Regions from separate parts of the Homo sapiens genome. Here regions 1 and 2 are each linked to region 3. Evidence: fine-mapped expression QTL. A gene starts in region 3. Each other region holds a variant in brackets. All regions are shown on one strand. Distances are between the middles of the regions.

Region 1 (8,177 bases), 76 kb after region 3:
GTGGTGCGATCTCGGCTCACCCGCAACCTCCCCCTCCCAGGCTCAAGCCATTCTCCTGCTCAGCCTCCTGAGAAGCTGGGATTACAGGCACACTCCACTACTGCCTGGCTAATTTTTGTATTTTTAATAGAGATGGGGTTTCGCTATGTTGGCCAGGATGATCTCAAACTCCTGACCTCAAATGATCTACCTGCCCCAGCCTCCCAAAGTGCTGGGATTCCAGGCGTGAGCCACTGTGACTGGCCAGGTTCTCCTATTCTTATTTTACAGATGAAGAAATAGGCAAAGATGTTAAATAACTTGCCCAAGGTCACTCAGCTAGGAATTGGGACTGGAGCCTCGTGCATCTTCACCACTGAACTGCACTGCCTGTCATAGTCCTCATCAGCAACCAAGGCTCAGTTAAGTCCTCTGCCTAGGATCAGCCTCACTGGATTTTTCCCAGAGAAAATGTCAGGCCAGGGCTAAGGCTCATACCCAGAAAGCTGAGGGAGGGAGCAGATGGTAACCCCAGGGGGATTTTGCCACAGTGGAGTTAGGGATAGGAGGTCAAAAGGACTGCAGTTGAGTCTTGCTCTGCCTCTTGTTATCTGAGTGAACGTGGCCAAGTCTGACCTCTCTGAACTTCAGTTTCCTCATCTGTGACATGGGGATGGCAGTAGAAGCTACCTCTCAGAGGTTATGAGGAACAAATGAGGAAATGTGCAAGGCAGGATTGTATCAACTGCAAAGAGCTGCCTGATGTAAGTGACTGTTAGTGCCAGCAGTCACTCAATATTTATCATGAATTACTAGGACCGAATCCAGGTGCTGTGAGTACAGCCATGAGCCCCTGGGCCTGGACTTGTCCCTAAGATGACAAATTGCAAGTCAAACAAGAATACAGTCACCTTGCCACTCTCCGCCTTCCATGGGCCTTTTGTGATCTTTCTGAAGCTATGACTTGGGCCCTGGCCATCTTTCCTTACCTGTGTAAACTGAAGGTCTTTAGCCCTCTAACAGTCTAGACAGCCCCCAATTTTAACATTCCAGGGGTGGAATGGGAGGCGGGTCCTTGTGACATTTGCTAAAGCAGAATTGCTGCCAAAAAGGGGCCTCTTTCTTCATGCAATGAATAAAAATCTTAGTGCCTCGTGTTTGTGTATGTCAAGACTCACTGCTGAAACTTTTGTTAATTCATTTATTCAAATGAACCACATTTATTTAAATTTACTTTAAATTTCAAAAGTAAACTAAAAATGCATTCTTGTTGTAAGAAATACAGATGAAATAATCCTTCCAATTCCAGAATCATCTGCAGAGGTCACTGCTGTGGTCAATTCACTGTGTATCCTTCTAGATCATTTCCTACGCATTTACCTACATGTATATATTATTCAAGGAGAAACATACGATTTTTTTGTTGGGTTTTTACCTTTGTACCTGAGTATTTTTGTTTTTCTGCAATTTGCTTTTCCAGTGAGCGGTGGCTCACGCTTGTAATCCCAGCACTTTGGGAGGCCGACGCAGGCGGATCATGGGGTCTGGAGTTTGAGACCAGCCTGGCCAACACAGTGAAACACCGTCTCTACTAAAAATACAAAAATTAGCTAGGTATGGTAGCGGGTGCCTGTAATCCTAGCTACTCGGGAGGCTGAGGCAGGAGAATCACTTGAACCTGGGAGGTGGAGGTTGCAGTGAGCTGAGATCGTGCCACTGCGCTCCAGCCTGGGTGACAGAGCTAGACTCCATCTCAAAAAAAAATGTATCTATCTATCTATATATATGGCTTGGAATGAAAATATGGCATGCACATTTTCCCATATCAGAACATGGAGGTCTACCTCATTATTTTTAATTGCTTCACCTTAAGTATTCCATAGATGGGGGTGCCACTGTTTATTCACCCATTCCCACTGGTGGACTGTTAGGTTGCTTCTGATTTTTCATTGTTGTAAATTTGCTTAGTGAACTCTCTGGTATGTGGTTCTGTGGGCAGACATGGCTATTTTGTTAGGATAATGGATATCTAGAAATAGAGTTGGTCAAATGAAGATGGGTATTGTTAATTTTAATAGAAACTGCCAAAATACCTATCAAGAAGACTGAACCAATTCAGGGCACTTCCAAGAGAGGATGAGAAGACCAACTTACGTACACACTCTCTCCCATGCTGGATACTGTCAGTACGTTGAATTTTTGCTAATCCAATGGATGAAGCTAAAACAAATCTTATGTCTATTTTAATTTGTAGTTCTCAAATTATGATTGCATTTCTCTCATGTTGAGCATATTTTCCTAAGTTCATTGGACATTGTGTTTTTATTTCTGTAAGTCACCTCTTCATATACTTTGCCCATTTTATTTTTATTTTTATCTTTGGAGACAAAGTCTCACTCTGTCATGCATGCTAGAATGCAGTGGGCGATCCGGGCTCACTGCAACCCCTGCCTCCCAAGTTCAAGAGCTTCTCCTGCCTCAGCCTCCCGAGTAGCTTGGGTTAAAGGTGCCTGCCACCACACCCAGCTAATTTTTGTATTTTTAGTAGAGACAGGGTTTCGCCATGTTGGCCAGGCTGGTCTTGAACTCCTGACTTTAGGTGATCCACCTGCCTCAGCTTCCCAAAGTGCTGGGATTTCAGGGGTGAGCCACCGTGCCCAGTTGCCTATTTTAAAAACTGGGGTTTCAAAAATATTTTTCTTATTAATGTGTTGGAAATTCTTAATTCTGGTTATTAATATGTGTTGTATTTTGGCTGAGTGCAGTGTCTCATGCTTGTAATCCTAGTACTTTGGGAGGCCGAGGAAGGAGGATTGCTTGAGGCCAGGAGTTTGAGACCAGCCTGGGCAACATGCAAGACTCCCATCTTTACACAATATAAAATAAACAATTTAGCCAAGCATGGTGGCATGTGTGCCTGTAGTCCCAGCTACTCTGGAGACTGAGGTGGGAGGATTGCTTGAGCCCAGGAGTTCGAGGCTGCAGTGAGCTATGATCTTGCCACTGCCCTCCAGCCTGGGTGACAGACCAAACACACACACACACAATTTTATTTTAATTTAATTTCTTTTTCTTTAGAGATGGTGTCTCCTCCTCTTGCCCATGCTGGAGTACAGTGGCATCATCAGGGTTCACTGCAGCCTTGACCTCCTGGGCTAAAGCAATCCTCCCATGTCACCCTTCAAGTAGCGGGGACTACAGTCACGCTGGGCATCTTTCCAGTACACCCTGTGTCATCATATAAATGATCCGTTTCCTTAGCAAGCAACCTCTTCCCAACTACAATGTCCATTGGAGGGCCAGGCA[C/T]GGTGGCTCACGCCTGTAATCCCAGCACTTTGGGAGGCTGAGGTGGGCAGATCACCTGAGGCTGGGAGTTCGAGACCAGCCTAGCCAATATGGTGAAAGTCCATCTCTACTAAAAATACAAAAAAATTAGATGGGTGTGGTGGCACACGCCTGTAGTCCCAGCTACTCAAGAGGCTGAGGCAGGAGAATCACTTGAACCCAGGAAGTGGAGGTTGCAGTGAGCCGAGATCATGCCACTGCACTCCAGCCTGCACAACAAGAGCGAAACTCCATCTCAAAAATAAAACAAAATAAATATAAAATAAAATAAAATAAAATAAAATAAAATAAAATAAAATAAAATGTCAGCTGGGGGACAGGGACTGTGTCCTCCTCATTTTTGTCTCCCTTGCACCAACACAGAGCCAGCACCCCTGGGTGAATGCGCATACACCTTCCCGTGCCAGGCACATGCCCACACTTCCCTATGCTCAGGCTGGTGTGTGGGGGGGGTGTCTCTGGGTAAGCACGTGCATGACAAGTGTTGAGACTGCACATCGACATAGCCCACATGCTTGCGTCTCAGTGTGGCCATATGCATGCAGCTAGCACACCTGTGCTTGTGGGCATGGGAATACACATGTGTCTGCCTTTCTTCCCTTGACAGTTTTCTGCCCTCTACTTCCTTGGGTCAGAAAAAGCAGGAACTTTTTCTCTTGGCAGGAGGAATATTTATTAACAGGGATAAAGTGAGGATACTGCAATCCTTGTAGTTTCTCCTGGGGAAGCCTCATTCTTTCTGAGGCCTCTGCCCGCCTTCTTTGCTCTCTTCTCCCCTCCTTTTTCTATTTCACATCTTTTTCCTTCCCCACTTCGGGAGGAAGCTCATCTAAGCTCAGCCTTTGCTGACAAGGCCATTTGGGCCCATTAGTTGCCTCTAATGAGTGACTGCCTTCTCGGCCCCTTCCCCCACAGCAACTGGGAGGCAGGGATCAATTAGCTGCTGCCGTAAACACACACACACACACACAAACACACACACACACCCTTACATGTGTATTTATGCTTCCACATGTATATGTACACGTCACATACTATATATGATCATAAATACACTCATAGCAAATACACATACATCTTCTCTTCTTGACCAGTAATATCTCCTAGGGGTCTCTACTCTGCTCCTTGCTCTGTTCACCAAGAAGAACACCCATGGCCAACCCCACACTCCCCAGCTCAAACCCAGATTCCCACGATTCGAAATGAAGTTCAACTCTCATGTTTTACAGGTGGCCAAATTGAAGCTCAGAGTAGGGAGGTGACTTGTCCAAAATCCCTCAGTCAGTTAGAAGCCAAGCTGAGCTTATGCTCAGTCCTATGCCCTCTGATGCCCAGTGCAGTGCTACTGCATCCGAGAGAGAAGCGGGGTGTCCCATGCAGGCCCACCTTGATCACAACAGAGCTGTGGCGCTTCAAAGGTAGCATGTCTAGGTTAGGGTGTGCAGGCATGATCCTTAAGGTGATAGGGACTGGGGAGGCTCTGCCATGAACCAAGGAGGGAGAGGGTGGGCTTTCAGGGAGGCCTGCCTTGTCCCCTGGGTTGGCCTGGCCTGGAAATTGTGGAGAGAGGAGTCCAATCTCAGTCTCCCTCTGGCTTCTGCAAGTCTCACCGTGGCTGTCTCTCCCTCCACCGAGTACTGACCTCAGGAATCCCTGATTCCTGGCAAGCTCCCTCTTGGCCAGATAGGAAGGGGGCACCTCACTGAGTACCCTGTTCCAAAGTGTCCTCTGGGGGAAGATAGGTTCCATCCTGGCCTTGGCCCTGGCCTGTTCTCCAGATTCCACACTAGGACGGGAGGTGTGAGGACTGGGTCCAGGCCTGAGGCACGCAAGACCCAGCAAAGTCCTGCATGACCAGCCTAGGCCACCTGGGTCAGAATGCCGTGGCACCACTGTGGCCAGCCACTTGGAGACATTCGTAACAAATACACATACATCCTCAGCAGCTGGGTTTATGGCTGAGTCTTAGCAATTTTGTCTCCTAAGGTCCCAGCCCTGCCAGGGACCCAGGCCCTGAATGGAAGAGCTGAGGACGGGTCTGAGCGGCCCTTGGGGAAACTTACCCAGGAGGGGTCACAGCAGGGGCAGGGGCTTCCAGAGCCCCCTTTCACCCCAGAAGCTGGAAATGATACTCTTCTTGCCCCCGCTCAGTCCCTCTCCCAGAGGCGGATGTTGTTGGGGGGCTGCAGTTCTCATCTACAGGCCCCTCTTCTCCCTGGGAGCCCCAGACCCCGCCTCCTCTCCCTATCCTGAGTCCCTGGCTGGAGCTACTGTGGAGACTGAGGCCTGTTACCTGCCACTCTCCATAGCCCTCAAGGCCGCAGTGAAGCCTGCCGGGGGCTTGAGGGGGCATCCTGGGAGCCCATCCCTTGGCTGATCTGGGTCTCAGTCAAGTCCCCAGGCCTGCTCCCTGGCCTCCCCCTCAGCAGGGCTTAGCTCAGCAAGTCCTCCCTTAGATTAAGTTTCCAAAGGGAATGTCCTTTTCCAGCGCGGCCCTCGCCCTACCCTGAAAGGCTCAGAGCAGCAGAGTCTTGGCTCTAGGGGTGTTGAGCCAGCAGGTGCCAACAGGGGATGGAGGAGGCAATGGGCCCTGGGGCAAGGGCAGTGGGGGACATGGGCTCCAGGTCGGGAAGACTTGGGCTGAAATCCTAACTTCCATTTAGTACCTGAGTGGCCTTGGAGAGCTATGCCACTTTTTTCCTAGAGAGCTTGTTAAAATACAGTACCGGGCCGGCGCGGTGGCTCACGCCTGTAATCCCAGTATTTTGGGGGCCGAGGCAGGCGGATCACCTGATGTCAGGAGTCCAAGACCAGCCTGGCCAACATGGCGAAACCCCATCTCTACTAAAAGTACAAAAATTAGCCGGGTGTGGTGGCACATGCCTGTAATCCCAGCTACTCGGGAGGCTGAGGCAGGAGAATGGCTTGAACCCTGGAGGCGGAGGTTGCAGTGAGCCAAGATCACACCACTGCACTCCAGCCTGTGGATGGAGCGAGACTCCATCTCAAAAAAAAATAAAAATAAAACGCAGTACCCCACTCTTAAGAGTTTTGTTTTTTTTTTTTTTTTGAGATGGAGTCTTGCTCTTCGACCAGGCTGGAATGCAGTGGCACGATCTCGGCTCACTGCAACCTCTGCCTCCTGAGTTCAAGCAAGTCTCTGCCTCAGCCTCCTGAGTGAGTAGCTGGGATTACAGGTGCCTGCCACCACGCCCGGCTGATTTTTGTATTTTTTAGTAGAGATGGGGTTTCACCATCTTGGCCAGGCTGGTCTTGAACTCCTGACCTCGTGATCCACCTGCCTCAGGCTCCCAAAGTGCTGGAATTACAGGCATAAGCCACCGTGCCCGGCCAGAGATTTCTTAATGTGTAAAATGAGGAGAACAAGGGGTTCTCCACAAAGACTTCCTCGCAAGAATGAGAAGCCATGTATAATCTCTATTACTGTTTACTTACGTGTGCACTGACAATTTTTGGAAGGGCATACCTCCAGAAATGGGAATAACAGGAGGAAGGAGGGAGCCTTTTACTTTTCACTTTATTCTCTTTTGTCCTGTTTTAATTTTACTATGAAGCATGCTTTATTTTTATTTAAAGAAAGGAAGGGAAAGAAAAGAAAAGATGAACCGCTCCCAGCCAAATAGCTGAGCCCCAGTTGAGTCAGTAAACGTAGTCTTAATTGTTATCTGTTAAATAGTTAACAACCCATCCTTCACTGGGCATTGTTTCTGGGTGTGAAAGTGATTTGTAAATAAATTGCTGTATAAATGTTAGTTATGATAAACAACTAGGTAATGATGTATTTCTATGCACAATTATGTATGTGAGGTGGCCTGTCCTAAATATGAGTGGCTGTGTATATCCTTCAGGGGAATTATGCAAATATTGTAAAGCGGTGGTGAAGAGCACGCTGTCAGTAGCCATGCTGCCTGGGTTTGAATCCTGAATTCAGTATCTACTGGAGATATGATCTTGGGCAAGTTACTTAGCCTCTTTGTGTCTCAGTCATTCTGTCTTTAATATGGGGACAATTAGGCCAGGTGTCTCACACCTGTAATCCTAGCACTTTGGGAGGCTGAGGCAGGAGGACAGCTTGAGCCCAGGAGTTTGAGACCAGCCTGGACAAGATAGTGAGACCCCATCTCCACAGAACAAAAATAAATAAATAAATAAAAACAATGGGGATAATTAGCCAGGCATGGTGGGGCACCACTGCACTCCAGTCTGGGTGACAGAGCAAGCTGCCCGCCTCTCTAAAATAAAAAAATAAAAAATAAAAAAATAAAATGGGGATAATACCTACTCCATAGGATTGCTGTGAAGGTTAAAGTGAACTAAGTCATGTAAAACTCTTAGAACATCCCCCAGCACATGGTAGGTGTTCAACAAATGTTTTTTATTTTGTGTATCTACGTGAGCATGTTAATGTTTCTCATCCCTTTAACAGGAGGAGCAGGTGGCCAGACACGGTGGCTCACGCCTGTAACCCCAGTACTTTGGGAATCCAAGTGGGGAGGATCACTTGAAGCCAGGAGTTAATAATAATAATAATAATAATAATAATAATAATAATAATAAAAGGAGGAACATTGTCTGACCCTTCCCCCATTAGAGGGGCTTTGTGGCTCTGTCCATCCTTTCAGTCTGTTTGTAGACACTTAACTTTGGTAACTGCGAGCATCTGGAGTGCTTGAGGAAGCTGGGCTTGCTCAGAGCTCCCATCCTAACAGGGAGCCCTGGGAGTGGAGGAGAGACACACATCTAGCTTGCATCCCACCATCGATGCTTCCAGGACACTTCTGGGGGTGGCAATATACCCATTGTGCCCCTGGGTCACTCAGATAAAATATCAG
Region 2 (8,177 bases), 250 kb after region 3:
ATTATTTAACCATAGCCACCATCTGTGGAACTTTCTAAAATATATGGATTCCAGGGACCCAGCCCTGAAGATCCAGATTGGCATGATCTAGGGTGGGGCCTGGGTATGTACATTTTTAAAAAGCTTCTCTGGGTGATTTCAATGCTCAGCTAATGGTGAGAACAGCTGGGGTAAAAATGTGTATGATCATCATTATTGTTTCAGTATGATCATCACTGTAGTTATCTTTTGGAGGATGAAAGTGGGGAAACACCCTTTAGAGAAGTCTATAAACACCTAGATCCATTGTAAGTCCTTAAATAAGGACCACTGTCACTGTCTTCGCTCCCTGGTCATCTCTGGCCTGGGGTTTCAGAGGCAGGTTCATAAGTGTGTGTGTATGTGTTTTCATGAATATGTGCTTGGAAAAGGCAATGAGAAGAAAGCAGATTATGAGGGGTTTCTGTCTTGAGAGGAAGCTACTGGAACCAGGAAGAACAAGCAGTCTGATTCCTAGGGGCTCAGGCCTATGCACTTAACCATAAGAAACAAGCGAAAGTGGCCCCACTGAGCTCCATGAGGAGCATGGCTAATCCTGTCACTCTGATTTGCATGTAGGGATGGTCTGCTTGTGGGGATGGTCAGTTCCTGCAGACCCGTAACTGCTGAGCTCATGAAGAGCCCCCTGGGATCTGGCCTGAGAGTCCATCAGCCAACTCTCTTCCTCCTGTTAGTACTTTCCCCCATAACCTGGGTATCCCAGGGTACTGTCCATCTCTGAGAGGTTAGAGCATGGCAAAGACCAACCCACCAATTCCCCTCTGCCCAGAGACCTCAGTTCCTGGGCCACTCTCTATCCAAGGCCACAAGGCCAAGTTCTAGGTCTCTTCCACTCTTTATACTCAGTAAGGGGGACTCTATGGGACTAAGCTAGGGTCCCTGCATGTCCTGGCATGGAGGTGGGAGTGAGTAGAGGGCTAGGGCTCAGAAAAGGATGTGGGAAGAGAAAAAGGGAAATAAAATAGAGGGCAGGATTAATGAAGTGGCTTCAAAAACTAATAGTGCATTTCCCAACATCTCCTCCTCTGACTCTCCCATCCCAAGGGAACCTGCCCACACCCCCAAAGCAGGCTGCCCAGCTCTCAGTCCACCTGCTAGGGTGGAAAGAGGCAGGAAGTCTCTCAAGGTGAGGGAGAGAACTCCCCTTCCTTTATACTCCAATCTCTAGAGATGAAACCCCAGGTCTCAGCCCCTCCTGTGAAGCACAGGCCCATCCCCACCCCTACCCAGCTTCAAAATAGCCAGTGGGAGGTGCATTAACTGGCGATGCTTTGGGGACAGCTCCCGCCATCCACAGCCCTGGCCATCTTAGTTTCTTTCAGTTCATCCCATCAAATGCCCTCCTTTCTCCCAGGCCTCCTCCCTAGAAGCTGACCTGGAGCTGGATTCCCAAATAAACAGTAACTAATTGGATTAGGAGCCGATAATACTGTTGACCTTTCTTAATGTCTACTGGCTGTCTTTCCACCACACTGAGGCTTAATTGTATGCAGTGGGGAGGAGGGTGGGGGACTTCCAGGAGTGAAATGTGACCCCTGTTAACCTCAGATAAAATGGGCTCAGCGTCTTCCCAACTGCCTGTCATCCCCCATGGAGCAGGAACACACACATGCTCCCTCTCTCATCAAATAATTACACAGATGATACACACATGCATAGGCATGCATACAGAGATGCAAACACACCCAGAGGCACATATGCATCCACACGTGGTGCACACATAACGTTGAACCTGGGTCATACATGTACACAAGTCACACTTGAATGATACACCTACAAAATTACATATATGAAAGACAAGTATATGCATATACACAGATACAGATTTGCAAAATGCAAACACACAGATACATATCGATAAATATATATTATTGCACCCATGATGCAAATGCATAATAGATGTATTCGCATATGTACACAAGATACATATGCAAGTAAAGATACACTGACATGCACACGTATGCATGATGCTTAAATAAATGAGCATGCAAAGTCCATGATACAAGTGCATACACACATATGCACGCTACGCATACCTTTGCACATCGATAGACGTCAGAGCCCCCACCACCACACACACACACACACACACACACACACACACACACACACACACAGGCAGTTTGCCCCATTCCACAGCCCATCTCCTTCCCAGTCTCTGCTGCTACCACTTTCTATTTGTTCCTGGGTTGTCTGGCTGTGTTTCTGGGATCCTGAGTATTATGGGTCTCTTGGAGTTCTGGCCCAGCCCCTCTGAGTGTCTCCTCCTCTCAGTATCTCTGGGGCCCTGTCCCCATGTGGATCTCTCTCATCCTGGGATGCTGAAGTGGAAAAGGACCTGGCTGCCACGGTGGTAGGGAGGGCATGAAAAGGGAAGAGATTAGAAGGGGAGGATGGGAGAGAAGGGCCAGAGAGGATGGAAAGGAAGGTCGGGGGAAAGGACCGGGAAAGAGGGGAGCGGGGAGCGAGGGGCGGGGGAGGGGCGCCTGCCTGCGCACAGCAGATGTTGCCGCTCCTCGGATGGAGCTGTTAATGTAAGTGGAGTTTCTGCAATGGTAATTAGGAGGGCCCTCATTACCCTGGCGGAGCCGGCTGAGAGCCGATAAAGCCGAGGGGGAGAAGGGCCGACATCAGGGTAATGGGGGAGCAGGGCCATTGAGGAGCTGGAGCCGAGCCGGGGACCGCTCCGCGCGCAGCTGGAGCCCGGCGAGAGGGCCGCGGAAGGGGGGTGCGAACCGGGGCCGGACCCCGGGGAGGAGCCGGGAGGCGAGCGGCGAGGGGCACTGCGCGGCTGGGTCTGCCCCGGGGTTTCGCACTGCGCCGCGGGTCGAAGTACCGCGAGTTGGCCCTGACTGTCTGCAGGATGAGGGTGTCGAGGAGGGTTCCAGGCCAGCGTGCCTGCCTCGCCTCCAGCCCGGGGTAAGGAGATCCACGGAGGCCTCTGCGCCTAAACTCAGGTGGCCAGACAGAGTTGGGGCGGGAGGCGGGTATACGGAAAGGACACCCTTCCCCTCTATGGGCCCCGCCCGCTGTGCAAGGGTGGGGAACTAGCACCCTCGTCCAGCGTCTAGCGTGACCAAGACATGTACTGTAGAATAGCCAACACAAGAGTTGACGGCTCCAGAATGTCAGATCACAGACGAGAAGACCAGCCTTCAGGGTTGGAGGTAGAAGCCTCTTGACTCTTTGGATTGAAAGGAGACCAGTCACCCCTCCTGGGAGGACTCTCCCACCCATCCTCCCCTACATAGTAACCTCTCAGCCCTAGAGGAGCTACAAGAAAAGCGAATTGGAGAAGCTCATCCAAGCAGTCCTAAGTACCTTGCTTCCATGCAGGGCTTTGCAGGAAGAGGAAGGGAGGCAGGGAAGGGTACGGTGACAGCTGTAGACATCACCTGCAGCTCTGCTCCCCGGCCAGGAACCCAGGAGGCCCTCCCAGACCCCCAGAATGGGGTTCTGGGGTGGGCAACTCATTTGCCATCTATCCTCCCCACACCTGAATATTTTAGGATGGGCCTCCAGCGCTTTCCAGGCTAACTCAGCGAGCCCAGTCTTCTTAGTCAACTGAGAGACATGTCTACAGAACAGACCATGTGGCCAACTCCTCCTCCTCCCCATGCCCCAGGCAAGAGGACTCTGGGAAGACATCCAGGAAGCAAGGAGTCTGTAGCCAGGTCAGAGAGAGAGGAGCTGTGGGGGTCTGTACAGACCACCTCCAGCAGAGAACCCATCCTCCATTTTCATCCCCTCTTCACATCCCTCCACCCACAGCTGCCTTCAGAAGCCCAAGGTCATTGGCCCTGCCACTCTGGTTTGCCAACTCCTCAAGGACCACATAGGCCCAACTGTTATGGAAAGGGTGGACCAGAGAGAGGGGCTTCTTTTCCTTCGGCTTTGGGGAAGGCAAAGGCAATTCCTGCCACTGCCCACTCCAGAGACGGCCGCATCTTCCAGGTGACTAAAGGCAAGTGATGGTTCTGAGGAGACCAGGACTGTGGGGAGCTCCTGGGCTCAGTGGGGGGAGCTCCTGGGCTCAGTGGGGGGAGCTCCTGGCCTCGGGGAGAGCCCCAGATGTCGCTCCCCTCTTCAGCTGCATGGCAGAGCAGGGGTTAACAGGGAGAGGCTGCAAGGCTGGAGCTGCGAGGCTGGAGCAGGCGGTGGCTCCCGCCTCTTCACCACCCCCCTCAAGAGTTGCTGACTCTTCCTTTTTGTTCGGGCTGACAGCGAGCACCTGGTGTGCTCCTGCAACAATATTGTTCCTGCCTCCCTCCCCCCAGGCCCCAGGCTCCCTTCCCTCTCCCCCTCCCCGCCCGCCGGCAACCTTCCCCTCTGCCTCCTCTTTCCCTTGCCCCCTCCTGCCTGTGGCCTCCTAGGCACCCCCCTACCACAACCACCACAAGCACCGACGCTGCAGTGTCAATAAACACAA[C/A]ATATGCTGCCATTAATGTGAAAATCGTGCCCTCTACCCCATTCATCTCCTCAGCCTGCCCGCCCGCTGGGGGTGGGGGTGGGGGGTGGGGGAAAGAAAGGTCAAGTGGGAAGCATTAACTACCCTCTTTTTCCTATCTGCTCAGCCCCCACCCCCACCCCCAGACTGGAGAGAAGAAAAGGAATTGGAGGAGAAGGAATGGGATAAGGGTGGGGGTTTTCTGAGACCCACATTCTCTCTGACATGCCCACTGAGCCTCCCCACAGGAAAACAGGTGAGCGTCCTCATCCAGCCCACGGTCTTCAACTTTGGGGTGGGGGCCAGAGTGAGGCCCTTGGCCTGCCCATGGACAGCCATGTTGCGGGCACGCTTCGCCTGGGGCCAAATGTGGTCACGCAAGTGGGTCTCTTTCTCCTGCACATCCAGCAGTCATCTCAGCTCCTGGGGACTTTCTGTCTGTCCACAGGATTATGAAAGAAATACTAGAAGTATTCTCCAAGTTGGGTTGGGCTTCAGAAAGCCCTTTTGATATAAGCCAAATACCTCAGATGGCCAAGGGAGTGGCCTGGCCTCAGTCTCCTCAACTAAATCACCAGTTCCAAGACAGCAGGGAATAATAAAGATAAAAATAATATAATAACGACAGCTAACATGTATTGAGGGCTTATTTATGTACTAGGAATTGTGCTAAGCACTTTACAGGCTTTATCTAATTTGCTCCCCATAAGACCCCTATGGGGAAGTTACAACGGATATCCCCATTTTACAGCTGAGGAAACAGGCTTCACAGGGTAGCTAGCATGTATTGAGTGCTCACTGCATGCCAAGCGCTGTGCTGAATTCACTTAGTACAATGTTTTCTTGTTTGTTTGTTTTTTTGTTTTGTTTTTTTGAGACGGAGTTTTGCTCTTGTTGCCCAAGCTGGAGTGCAATGGTGCGATCTTGGCTCACTGCAACCTCCGCCTCCCGGGTTCAAGCGATTCTCCTGCTTCAGCCTCCCTAGTAGCTGGGATTACAGGCATGTGCCACCACACCTGGCTAATTTTGTATTTTTAGTAGAGAAGGGGTCTCTCCATGTTGGTCAGGCTGGTCTTGAACTCCCAACCTCAGGTGATCCACCTGCCTTGGCCTCCCAAAGTGCTGGGATTACAGGCATGAGCCTCCGCACCCGGCGAGTACAATGTTAATGACCCTGCGGTGAGTACAATGTTAATGACCCTGCGAAGCTGGCATCACTATTAGTGTCATCTTACAGAACAGGAATCTGAGGCCCAGAAAGGTTCAGTAACTTGCCCAAGGTCACACAGCCAATAAGCAGAACTTGGCCAGGAACCCAAGTCTGTCTGACAGCAAAGCTTGTCATCTCAACCCCTATACTTTCCTGCCTCCTTTTTCTATCTATCACCATCTCCAGTAACCCCACAGCATGGCCCCCTCAAATCCGCCCTGTGTGGGGTTGAACAGATACAGGGCAATGCAGAAGGAAAAGCTGACAAGCGGCCTGAGCGTGAGACCGAGCCGAGACTTATTCTCTGCTCAGCTCCTCCCTGGTTTCATTGTCACTCCTTTGCCACTGAGCTGCGCCCACCCAGCCTGTGCGCTCACTGGACTCCTGCCCCCTGTCCAGCCCCATTTTAAGAATTCATCGTGGACAGGAAAAGTGCCCCTTCAGGCTCCCTTAGCATGAAGACATTGTGCTTGGCTCTGCAGCTCCTCACTTCTGAGACTCCAGTTGCTTTATTGATATTAACTTAACACTCCCCCGCCCGCCACTTCCCCACCCGCCCTAGCCCAGGCTGACGGGCAGAAATCTGCTGCCTGGGCACCACCCTGACCTCTCTTTTCCTCTTTCATTATCCACTCCAGGCACCAGGGAGCCAGCACCAAAATTAAAACAATAACTAAGCCCGAAGTGGACCCAGCAGCCCCCACTCCCACCCCAAGGGAGGGGAAAAAAGCCACAAAAACACCTGGAGAGGAGAATAATCACTGGAAGGGGAGGGGGTGACCCACTCCCATGCCAGCACCCTTCACCTGCCTTAACCCTTTGTTCCCTGGACAGTAACCAAGGTTTCCCCATTTCATCCCTCCCACCCAGTCCCATAAAGAAGCGGCAGCTTCTGGCAGCTGCTCAGTCATTTGGTGCAATGGGATTTGAATAAACAAACCGGGGACAGTGAGGTCCCCAGAAGTCCATAGTCAAGGGCTAAGACCCCTAGAGGCTTTCAGTCCTGCCACAGCATGAAGTTGGCTCATATCAGAGCCAGCGAGCCAGCTGGAAAGAAAGGACATGGGTCAAGGCAAGCCCAGTCTAGCTCTGTGGAGGCCAGCAGAGGGGGCTACTGTCCTGAGGTCAAGTGGTGGGAGAGGGAAGCTTAGAGAGGCCCATCTCAGGAGAGCGGAGGTGCTGATTATCCTGTAGTGGTGGGCACCTACCCATGCAGCCTCCCCGGACATCTATGGGCTAGCAGCTCCAGCAGGGGGTGTCCCTCCAGGGAGATTATCCTGTAGTGGTGGACATCTTCCCGTGCAGCCCCCCTGGACATCTATGGGCTAGCAGCTCCAGCAGAGGCTGTCCCTCCAGGGAGAGGGGGCAGAGCTAGCAGCACTGAACTGTCCTAAGTGTGCTGGGCTCTGCAGAGGGCCTTTCTGTCGTACGCCCCCTCAGCTCTACCTAGAAAGAACCTATCTCACTGCTCCATCGGTCCCACACCAGGATTCCCACACCCCCAAGCTGGCCCCTTCCCTGCCTCTACTCCACACCACACTCCAACCTCTCAGGGTCTTCTAACCACCCCCTTATCTTGTCCAAGGTGTGAATAAGTCCTTGTTTACCTTAATTCTGCTAACACCAAGAGGGAGACTTTTCCAAAGGCTCTGTACTACAAAACTGAAGGAAAGACTAGGAGAGCCAACACTTATGTTACCATGGCCAGGCCCTGTTCTAAGGACTTTTCCTAAGATTTGCACAACAATCCTAAGAGATAGGTACCCCTATCCTACAGACGGAGGAAAGGAGGGCCTGAGAATTCACAAACTTTAGCTGGTGAATGGCACAGCTGGGATTTTGATCCAGGCGGTATATGCTTATGCAACACTACTTTTTCCAAAGCAAAAAAAAAAAAAAAAAAAATTTAAGTCTTTATTTAAGTTCTTTATTCCACATTAGACTGTAGGCTCTCTAAGGGCTTTCTTGCCCATCATGGCATTCCCACAGGGTGAGGCAAAGTGGGACAACCATAAATGTGCACCAAAGGGATTCCAAGACAACTAAAGGCCTCCAAGGACTGCCTGACACACCCCAGTGGGCACAGAGGACATGATCCTTCCCCTTGCCTCAGCCATGGCTAGCATGGGTGCTAGACTCAGCCACACTGACTGCTGGCCACAAGCAGGCTTAGCTGAATCCAGAGCCAGGTCTGATGAGGTCCTCTAGCCTTTCCAGAACTCTTCCATCTTCTCATTGGTCTCCCTTGACCCTATAGGTTCTGACCCAGTCCTGGCCCCCTCAGCTCATCCTTATAGCCCCTCAAGGGCCTGCACCACCTGTCTCCAAAGACTAGTCACACTTCATGAGGGCCCTCATGGTCATGCCCTTCAGAGGCCACTACTCCCCAAGCCCGGCACTCTCCTGCTATCGTGGAGCATATTTGTGGTTAGGGCTGGCCCTGCCTTTCAGAAGCTCAGCCCTCTCACCCCACAGCCTGGT
Region 3 (8,165 bases):
TTCTCTACCTCCACTGCCCCAGCCTCTCCCCCAGGTGCTCCACTGCAGCCCCGGCACTATCCTTGCTTCCACTCTTGCCGCCTTTAGCTATTCTCTATACAGTACCCAGAGTCAGCTTTTACATTAGCTCATGTCTTTTCCCTGATTAAAAACTTCAACACCTGTTCCTGCTTCTAGAACTCCAGTCTCCTCACCATGCCCTATAAGGCCCTGCCTGGGCTTTCCTCTGCCCACCCCTCCGCCCTCCCCTCCACCCTCCCCTCCCTCACTGAGCTCTGGCCACACTGATCTTCCTGTTCCTCATGGAGGCCAAGCCCTTCCAGTGTTCCCTCTGCCTGCAGTGCTCCTGCCCAGGCCTTTAGAAGGTCAGCTCCTCTTCCTCGTTCCCCTCCTGGCTCAGACACCACTTTCTTGGAGAAGGCTTCCTGGAGTGTCCTCCCTTCCTCCCAGTGAGTACCTCTTGTAGGGCTTCTCAAAGCGTAATCCTGGATCAGCAGCGTCAGTGTCATCTGAGAACTTGCTAAAAACGGGAATTCCTTCGCTTTACCACAGACCCACTGGACCAGAAGCTCTGGGACTGAGCCCTGCAATCTATCCCTGAATGAGCCTTCCCGGCAATTCTGAGGCATCTGAGGTTTGAGAAGCACCATTCTATCATGTCATCAGATGATCACATTCTGACTCTTCCCATCCTTTGTCGTCGTTCGCTTATTTGTGATTTATCTGTCTCTTTTCACTAGACCATAAGTTCAATCATGGTGGGGACTTCGTAATACTCTTCTAGTATATCTCCAATATGTTGGACAGTGCTTGGTATTTGATAGGTATTTTTTTTGAATAAGTGAAAGAATAAATGGATGGATGGATGGTCAAACTAGGAGAGTGAGGAGAAATGCATTAAGGGTAATGCTTTCCTGGATTAAAGGTAATGCATTTTCTCTGGGACCAGTTGAATTTAAGGAGCTGGTGGGATCTCATGGGGCCGATGTAGGTGGCAATGTCACCGTTTATTCCTTATCAGTTACTTTACTCCCCGGGAGTGATCTAAATAATAACATGGGGCAGGGTTCCAGGCTGCGGTGACTTGGGAGATACCTGTTCTCAGGCAGAGGGGAGAATTCTGAGCTCAGAGGGTCCCAGTCCAGTCAGAGGAGAAGCCAAGTGGTCAGAGCAACTCCTCAGTCCCTCACTGCTAGGAGATGCTGCTTCCTTGGCTGCACAGTGGCGCTAGCATGAGGCAGAGGGAGAAAGCAATCATGAAACCCCTGGAAGAGGATCTTTAGAGGGACAGTATAGGCCAGGCATGGTGGCTCATGCCTATAATCCCAGCACTTTGGGAGGCTGAGGCCGGAAGATCACTTGAGCCTAGGAGTTCAAGACCAGCCTGGGCAACATGGTGAAACTCTGTCTCTACAAAAAATAAAATAAAATAAAATTAGCTGGGCTTGGTGTTGCATGCCTATAGTTCTGGCTACTCAGGAGGCTGAGGCTGGAGGATCACTTGAGCCCAGAAGTTTGAGGCTGCAGTGAGCTATGATCACACCACTGCACTTCAGCTTGGGTGAGCGACAGAGCAAGACCCTTTCCCTCTTAAAAAAAAAAAAAAAGACGTTATAAACAGCGCTTGCATCATACATGGGCAAAGGGAAGGGGAGAGAGAGAGAAACAGAAAGAGTGTATCAGAGGGAGTATAGCATAGTTCTTTTAATAGAATGGGACTAATAAAGACAGTTATGCGGTGCCTGCTTCCCTTTTCCCCAATGTCTCCTAACTCCTCTGGGGACTTCTGCTCCCTCACCAGAATGACCGTGGTGACCCTCAGCAGTGCCCTGTGCTCACCAGAGGGTGAAGCATAGACTGGTGTATGACAGGGGTGAGCGTGCCAGGGCACTGGTGGAGGAAAGCCTGCTCCCTGAGCAACATGCCCCACCCTGCTCCAGTGGCCTAGGGAGGGGAAGAGAGATGCCCTGCTGGGTCAGAGGGGGAGGAGCAGGGCCTGAACAGTCCAGTCTGGGATCCAGCCAGGGGAGCTCTGCTGGCTAAGAAAGAGGAGAGGAGCTGGAGATATTTATCTGGTCCTGCTCACAGAAAGCTCAGACTCAGGGGGCCTGGCTCCGCACCTGGCATTCTAGGTCCTGTCTTGCTCATCAGCTGTTAGTCACCTCACATCTGTCACTACAGCCAGGCTGGCTCCTAAGTGCCCACCTACCATGCTCCATGCTTTTCACTTCCAGCCTTTGTTGGTGACAGCTCACCCCTGCCACCAGCTGTTCTTATTGCTCTGTCCTGCTACACTGTAGATTCCTGGAAGGTGAAGAGGGAGCCTGATTTCTCTCTAGGTCCCTTGTAACACCTCCCCAGGGCTGGTATAGAATTGTGCTCCATGAAGCGGCATTAAGCAACTACATAAGCTTAGGTCTCCCCTTCCCTGATGGAGCTCCCTCTCCACCCTCAACCCTCCTCTTCTGAACATTTGCTGTGCTGCCTTCATTCCCCTCCTTCAGCACGGAAGCCCTGAATTCTGTCTACCCGCTTGGGCACTGACTCCTCGCAGCCCAGCACAGAGCTTGTCACACAATGGACTGGTTGATGGAGGATGTCCTTCTTTATCCTGCCCCATCCCCCAGAAGTACACACAATGGATCTGGAGAAGGGCAGAGCCCATGGGAGAGAGGCCAGTTCAATCCCCTGCCTTGTCCACCAGGGGCTAGCATACCACACGCATGCCTGTCCCTGCTGCCATGGCCTTCTTTCCCTCCTCTGACCCTTCTACGACCCTGGACCCCTGCAGGATTGGCCTGGAGGAGAGGCCAAGGGCAGGTGAGGAAGAGTGTATGGGTTCCCAGGCGGCCTGCCACCTCCCTGTGACTCCCATCTCTTGAATTCCCCCAATCATACTGGCTCTGCCTCCTCCTGCTGAGTTCCCATTGTCCCCTACCCCCACCCTCCCCAACCCAGGCCAGTGGCTGGGTCCCGCCCCTACCTTCGATGGGGGAGTTGATGAGGATGACGCGTCCCATGGGCGATGAGGCTCGGATTCCGCGGGGGGGCCCGTTCAGCAGCCGTTGTTGCTTCCTTAGCAGGTATCGCGTTGCGGTGGAGCCTGAGTCGCTGCCTAGGTGGCCTCGGGAGGAGAGGGAGCTCAGAGAGCCGGAGCTCAGGTCTCCTAGGCCCAGTGGGTCGAAGCCCACTGCGAAACCCTGCGCCATGGCGGCTGGGCTAGGGCGGCACCCTACAGGTCCAGAAGGAATCTGCTAGCTCTGGAGAGGCCAGCCCTGCGTGCTTCGAGCTCCATGAGCCTCTGTGCGGGGCTGGGGTCTCAGTAACGTGAAGGCCCTCGCTTGCGATGCCTCTCAGAAGTGTGAGCTCCAGGCCTGGGCAGGGAGAGCAGGGATGAGGGAGGGGTGTAAATGTTTCCCCTGCTGCCCCCTAAAACTTCCACCCCTCCCCCTGGTTTAAGCATCCTGCCCTCCCATGCCTTAGGCCCCCCTCCTGTCTCACCCTAGGCCAGAGAACTGCCCCGTCCAGGCACCATCTTGGACTCTCGCTGACTTTATACAAGGCAGGTGGGAACCTTTCACCCCTCATTCCTGCTCGGGGCTGAGTCATCTACTCCCGTCCCCAGTCCTCAGTAGAGGTTGAGAGTGGAGTTGGGATTACTGCGGGCCCTGGGGCTTAGAGAGGTGTGAGACAAAAGAGAGGTCAGGACAGCTCATGGCATCACCTCTCTCATGCATATGCGGGCATGGAGGTGGCCCGGGGTGGGGCGGGGGCTGCGTGGGGCGGGCTGGGCCTCGAGGATAGGGCTTCAGGACCTTAGACAGCTGAGGCCCAGGAAGACCCCCAGACACCCGCGGGCTCCAGGCTGCGGCTCCGGGTCTAAAGAGGCTGCATGAACCTCTCCCAAGCTTTGGGGAGGATCTGCTGGAGAGGGGTCCCACGACATCCCGCGCAAAACCCAGGGCCAGTTCCCTCAGAGAAGCTCTGGGACCTAGAATGAAGCACCCCAACATCAACTCGGCCCTCCAGGCCCCCCACCCCTTTGTGCCTGGTCGGCCTCACCTGGTCGCTGGTGTGGCGCCGCCAGCCTTGTCAAACCACCCGCAGGCGAGAGCTACTGCCGCAGCCGGCAAACCCCACCCACGCTGCGCGGAGGCTGCGGGAATTGGGCTGGCCTGCACCGCCCCGGGCTCCCATTGGCTGGTAGGGCCGCCAGTCATTCTATTCCGGCACCTCCCTTAGGCGCCAGGGACAGCCGAGCGTTACCTGGTCCCGGGCAGCGGAGTTCTTTACCCACCCCAGTTCTGGTTCTGACGCCCTAGCTCATTCCGCAAATTTAGGGCTTGGGTCTGGCTTGTTCCCCTCCGGCTCGAACCACCTCTTCTCTGAGCCGAGCCAGCTACCGGGGCTCCTGGAATTGCCACCCCTCCCTGGGCACCCTTGAGGCCTCCGTGGAGGGACGTCACGGGGCAGAGCGGGACGTGAGCCTGAGTTTGCTGCAGGCGTGCTCTGTGTGGTGGCTGGGTGAGTTGTGAGTATGTGCGTGGCGGAGGGGGTGCCTTCTTCACTTGCATCCTCCTCCTCTGTCAGAAGGCGTCTCTGGCTACCCAGTTCTGGAATGGTCGCAGGGTGGGGCAGCTGGTCCCAGGACCGGAAGAATCCTAAGAATCCTTCTGATGCACTTGCTCGGATGCAGACCGCGAGGTTCCTGGGGTCGTCTGCCCCTCCACATCTCAGGGGTGGGGCTACGGTCTGGGGTGCAGGGCTAGGGGTTGGGAGCGTAAGGAGACCAGGGACACAGTGGAGCTAGGGGTTACAGAGGGGGAGCAGGGAGAGGGCTGGGGACATAGAAGAGGCACAGGCACGACAGGAACGGGGCTGTGAAGTGATGCGAATGCCGCGCTGCTACAAGAGGAGCTTGTGGATACTGGGGTAGGAGCCCAGGGGGACAAGCAAGCCAAAGGCCATTGCCAAGGCAGCCATCAAGTAAACAAGCCAGGCGGTAACCCGAGTCCCTCCCGGCGCGCCAGCAGAGGACCGCCCCTCCACACCGCCCACCTGCGCCCGGGGCTTTCTCTCTGGGCACCTAGACCGCTTGCTGCAGGGCTGGGGGTCTGCTGAGGCCCGCCAGGGGACTGTAAACCAAGGGAGCAGCGCCCGCGGCTCCAGCCCCTCCTCCCTTTGGCTGGGGAGGGGGCCAGAACTGATCCCCGAGGTGGGATTGGCTCTGGGAAGCAGCTTAGGGCCTGGTCCAGGTGGCCCAGGCTGGGGGCATCGCCTCGAATGACACCCACCGCCCTCAGGTTCTGCCAATCCCCGTGCCCACCGGGTGGGCGCGGCCGGGAAGCTCCTGCCCCTCCCTGCTGGTCGGCGTCACGCGTGACGTCCCGCGTGATGGCTGGGAGGGCCCGGCGGCGACAGCGGAGGCAGAGAGGAAGGCGGTTCTGAGAGCTTCAGAGAGCGATGGAAAGCGTAAGTGCTCGCTCTCCCCGGCGGGCGGGGTTCTGGAATGGGGGTCAGAGAAGGAGGCCTGCCTTGAAACTGTCTGTCCTGGTGCAGTCAATGTCCTCGGCTCTGTGGAGGTCCAAGTCCACAGGGCACAAGGGAGGTTGGGGGGAGGAATGTCAGGGTGGGGCTGTGTGTAGTCACACATTCAAGTGTCTGCAGATGGGCACAGTGTGCGCCTGTAAAGGTGTTTGAAGGCCGGTGTATACAGGACACCTCCACTCTGTCTGTATGTCTGGGCAGGGTGTGCATGATAGTGTCTTTGTGTGTGGGTATGTGAGTGTGAGGGGAGGGCGTCTCTGCCTCTGCGGGAGGAAGTGTGGCTGGAGAGGATTAGTCATTCTGTAGGATTCTGCCCAACTCAGCCAGATGGCTGCACCAGGCTTTCCTCTCTGTGCTGGGTGGAGGGAGCAGCCACTGAATCCTGCTCTTATCCGGAGGCAAGTGGCCCAGAGAGAGGTGGATGAGTGTCTGTGCCAGCCCTGCCTGGCCAGGGACCAGGGAGAGCCTGGGGTCATTCAGTGTGAGTTGGAGAAAAATGGGTCTGTAGAGAGGACTTGTGCGTGCCCACATGCACACACATGGCTGACATCAGAGTCCCCTGATTGAGATCTGGAACAGATAAGCCCTGGGTGGCCAGTAAGGCCTTGCTCTCCTCCAATCAGGGACTGGAGTGTGGGATGTCTTGTGCCATTTTCCAAAACAGCCTTGGGGGTTTGTATCCAGGTCTCAGTGCAGCTGGGGCCTAAAGCTCACCTGAGCATGGGTGTGTAATATATATATTATATATTCTTGTGCATCTGTAGCACACGTGGCTGGGATGTTTGTTGCTGCTTATGTGTCAACCACATATATGTAAATCCTCACTCATGAAAATCTGTACCAGGATAGAGCACAAGGAGATCTGTTTTCCTGTTTCTGGTCTTCCCTTCCCCCTCCTCCAGTGGCTGCAGGTCCCTGGGCTGGGACATTGCCCAGGAAACAGCTCCTCCCCACACCCTTGCTTACCTACCTAGTTGAAGGGGTGGCCTGCCCCTCCACACCTGTGGGTATTTCTAGTAGGGTGGGACAAGAGACTGAGAAAAGAAATAAGACACAGAGACAAAGTATAGAGAAACAACAGTGGGCCCAGGGGACCGGCGTTCAGCATACCAAGGATCTGCACCGGCACCGGTCTCTGAGTTCCCTCAGTTTTTATTGATTATTATTTTCATTATTTCAGCAAAAAGGAATGTAGTAGTAGAGCAGGTTGATAATAAGGAGAAGGTCAGCAAAAAACATGTGAGCAAAAGAATCTATGTCATAATTAGGTTCAAGGGAAGGTACTATGCCTAGATGTGCATGTAAGCCAGATTTATGTTTCTCTCCACCCAAACATCTCAGCGGAGTAAAGAATAACAAGGCAGCATTACTGCAAACATATCTCACCTCCCACCATAGGGCGGTTTTTCTCCTATCTCAGAATTGAACAAATGTGCAATCGCGTTTTATATGGAGACATTCAGTTCCCAGGGGCAAGCAGGAGACAGTGGCCTTCCTCTATCTCAACTGCAAGAGGCTTTCCTCTTTTACTAATCCACCTCAGCACAGACCCTTTATGGGTGTCAAGCTGGGGGACGGTCAGGTCTTTCTCATCCCACGAGGCCATATTTCAGACTATGCATGGGAAGAAACCTTGGACGATACCCCGCTTTCAAGGGCAGAAGTCCCTGTGGCTTTCCGCAGTTAATTGTGCCCCTGGTTTATTGAGACTAGAGAATGGCAATGACTTTTACCAAGTATACTGCTTGTAAACATTTTGTTAACAAGGCACGTCCTGCACATCCCTAGATCCCTTAAACCTTGATTTTATACAACACATGTTTTTGTGAGCTCCAGATTGGGTCAAAGTGCTGGGGCAAAGTGGCTGGGGCAAAGCTACAAATTAACAACATCTCAGCAAAGCAATTGTTTAAAGTACAGGTCTTTTTCAAAATGGAGTCTCTTATGTCTTTCCTTTCTACATAGACACAGTAACAGTCTGATCTCTCTTTCTTTTCCCTACATCTAGTCACCTTGAGCTCTTGAAGGGACTGATGATAAGCTCAGGGGCCAGGGCAGGGGCACCAAAGATTTCCCCTAGCTGGAGCCCTTGGACCCTTGGACTCCCGCTCTGACCCTTATCTCTGTCCTGCAGAAAATGGGTGAATTGCCTTTAGACATCAACATCCAGGAACCTCGCTGGGACCAAAGTACTTTCCTGGGCAGAGCCCGGCACTTTTTCACTGTTACTGATCCTCGAAATCTGCTGCTGTCCGGGGCACAGCTGGAAGCTTCTCGGAACATCGTGCAGAACTACAGGTGACCACCCCTCAATCTGACCCTGTGTGCCAGGATCTCATTTTCTGTGATTAATATAATATGTTTTGTACCTGCCTCCTCAAGCTTGACAGTGACCCTGTCCCTCAATCCCCTCACTCTCTAGCCCCGTCTGTTGGCATCACAGAGCTTTAACCCAAAGGATTTTAGGGCATTTGGGTTGAGAAGATGGCATTGATATTTATGGGAGGGGCTGCTCTATGCATCACAAACCTCTACAGGGATCTATCCCATTGCGGGGTCACCCTCTGCAAGGATAGAGGTGCTCAAAGTGGAGTCCCAGGAAGATAGGAGGGAAATCC

The links. PIP is the estimated chance that this variant, and not a neighbour inherited with it, causes the effect.
Region 1: its variant is fine-mapped to the expression of SFXN3 in sun-exposed skin (GTEx, PIP 0.99).
Region 2: its variant is fine-mapped to the expression of SFXN3 in breast (GTEx, PIP 0.94).

What each region holds. Positions count from the first base shown.
Region 1 is chr10:101,102,809-101,110,985 of GRCh38, forward strand. The region is part of intron 2 of TLX1NB (TLX1 neighbor); the gene reads right to left. Among named protein-coding and RNA genes, the nearest start is that of TLX1NB, 24 kb to the right of the region's middle. The variant C/T (reference allele first, on the strand shown) is at 3,286.
Region 2 is chr10:101,281,612-101,289,788 of GRCh38, forward strand. LOC105378453 (a long non-coding RNA gene) reads left to right here and starts at 2,312. Exons shown (of 3, transcript XR_001747306.2): 1 at 2,312-2,392; 2 at 3,549-3,713; 3 at 3,811-4,492. RefSeq lists enhancers at 3,501-4,410, 4,411-5,318. The variant C/A (reference allele first, on the strand shown) is at 4,469.
Region 3 is chr10:101,027,011-101,035,175 of GRCh38, forward strand. SFXN3 (sideroflexin 3) reads left to right here and starts at 4,224. Exons shown (of 12, transcript NM_030971.6): 1 at 4,224-4,524; 2 at 5,304-5,472; 3 at 7,682-7,845. The coding sequence starts at 7,685. It overlaps PDZD7 (PDZ domain containing 7), which reads right to left and starts at 4,119. Exons shown (of 17, transcript NM_001195263.2): 1 at 4,063-4,119; 2 at 2,984-3,374. The coding sequence starts at 3,209. RefSeq lists an enhancer at 4,537-4,746.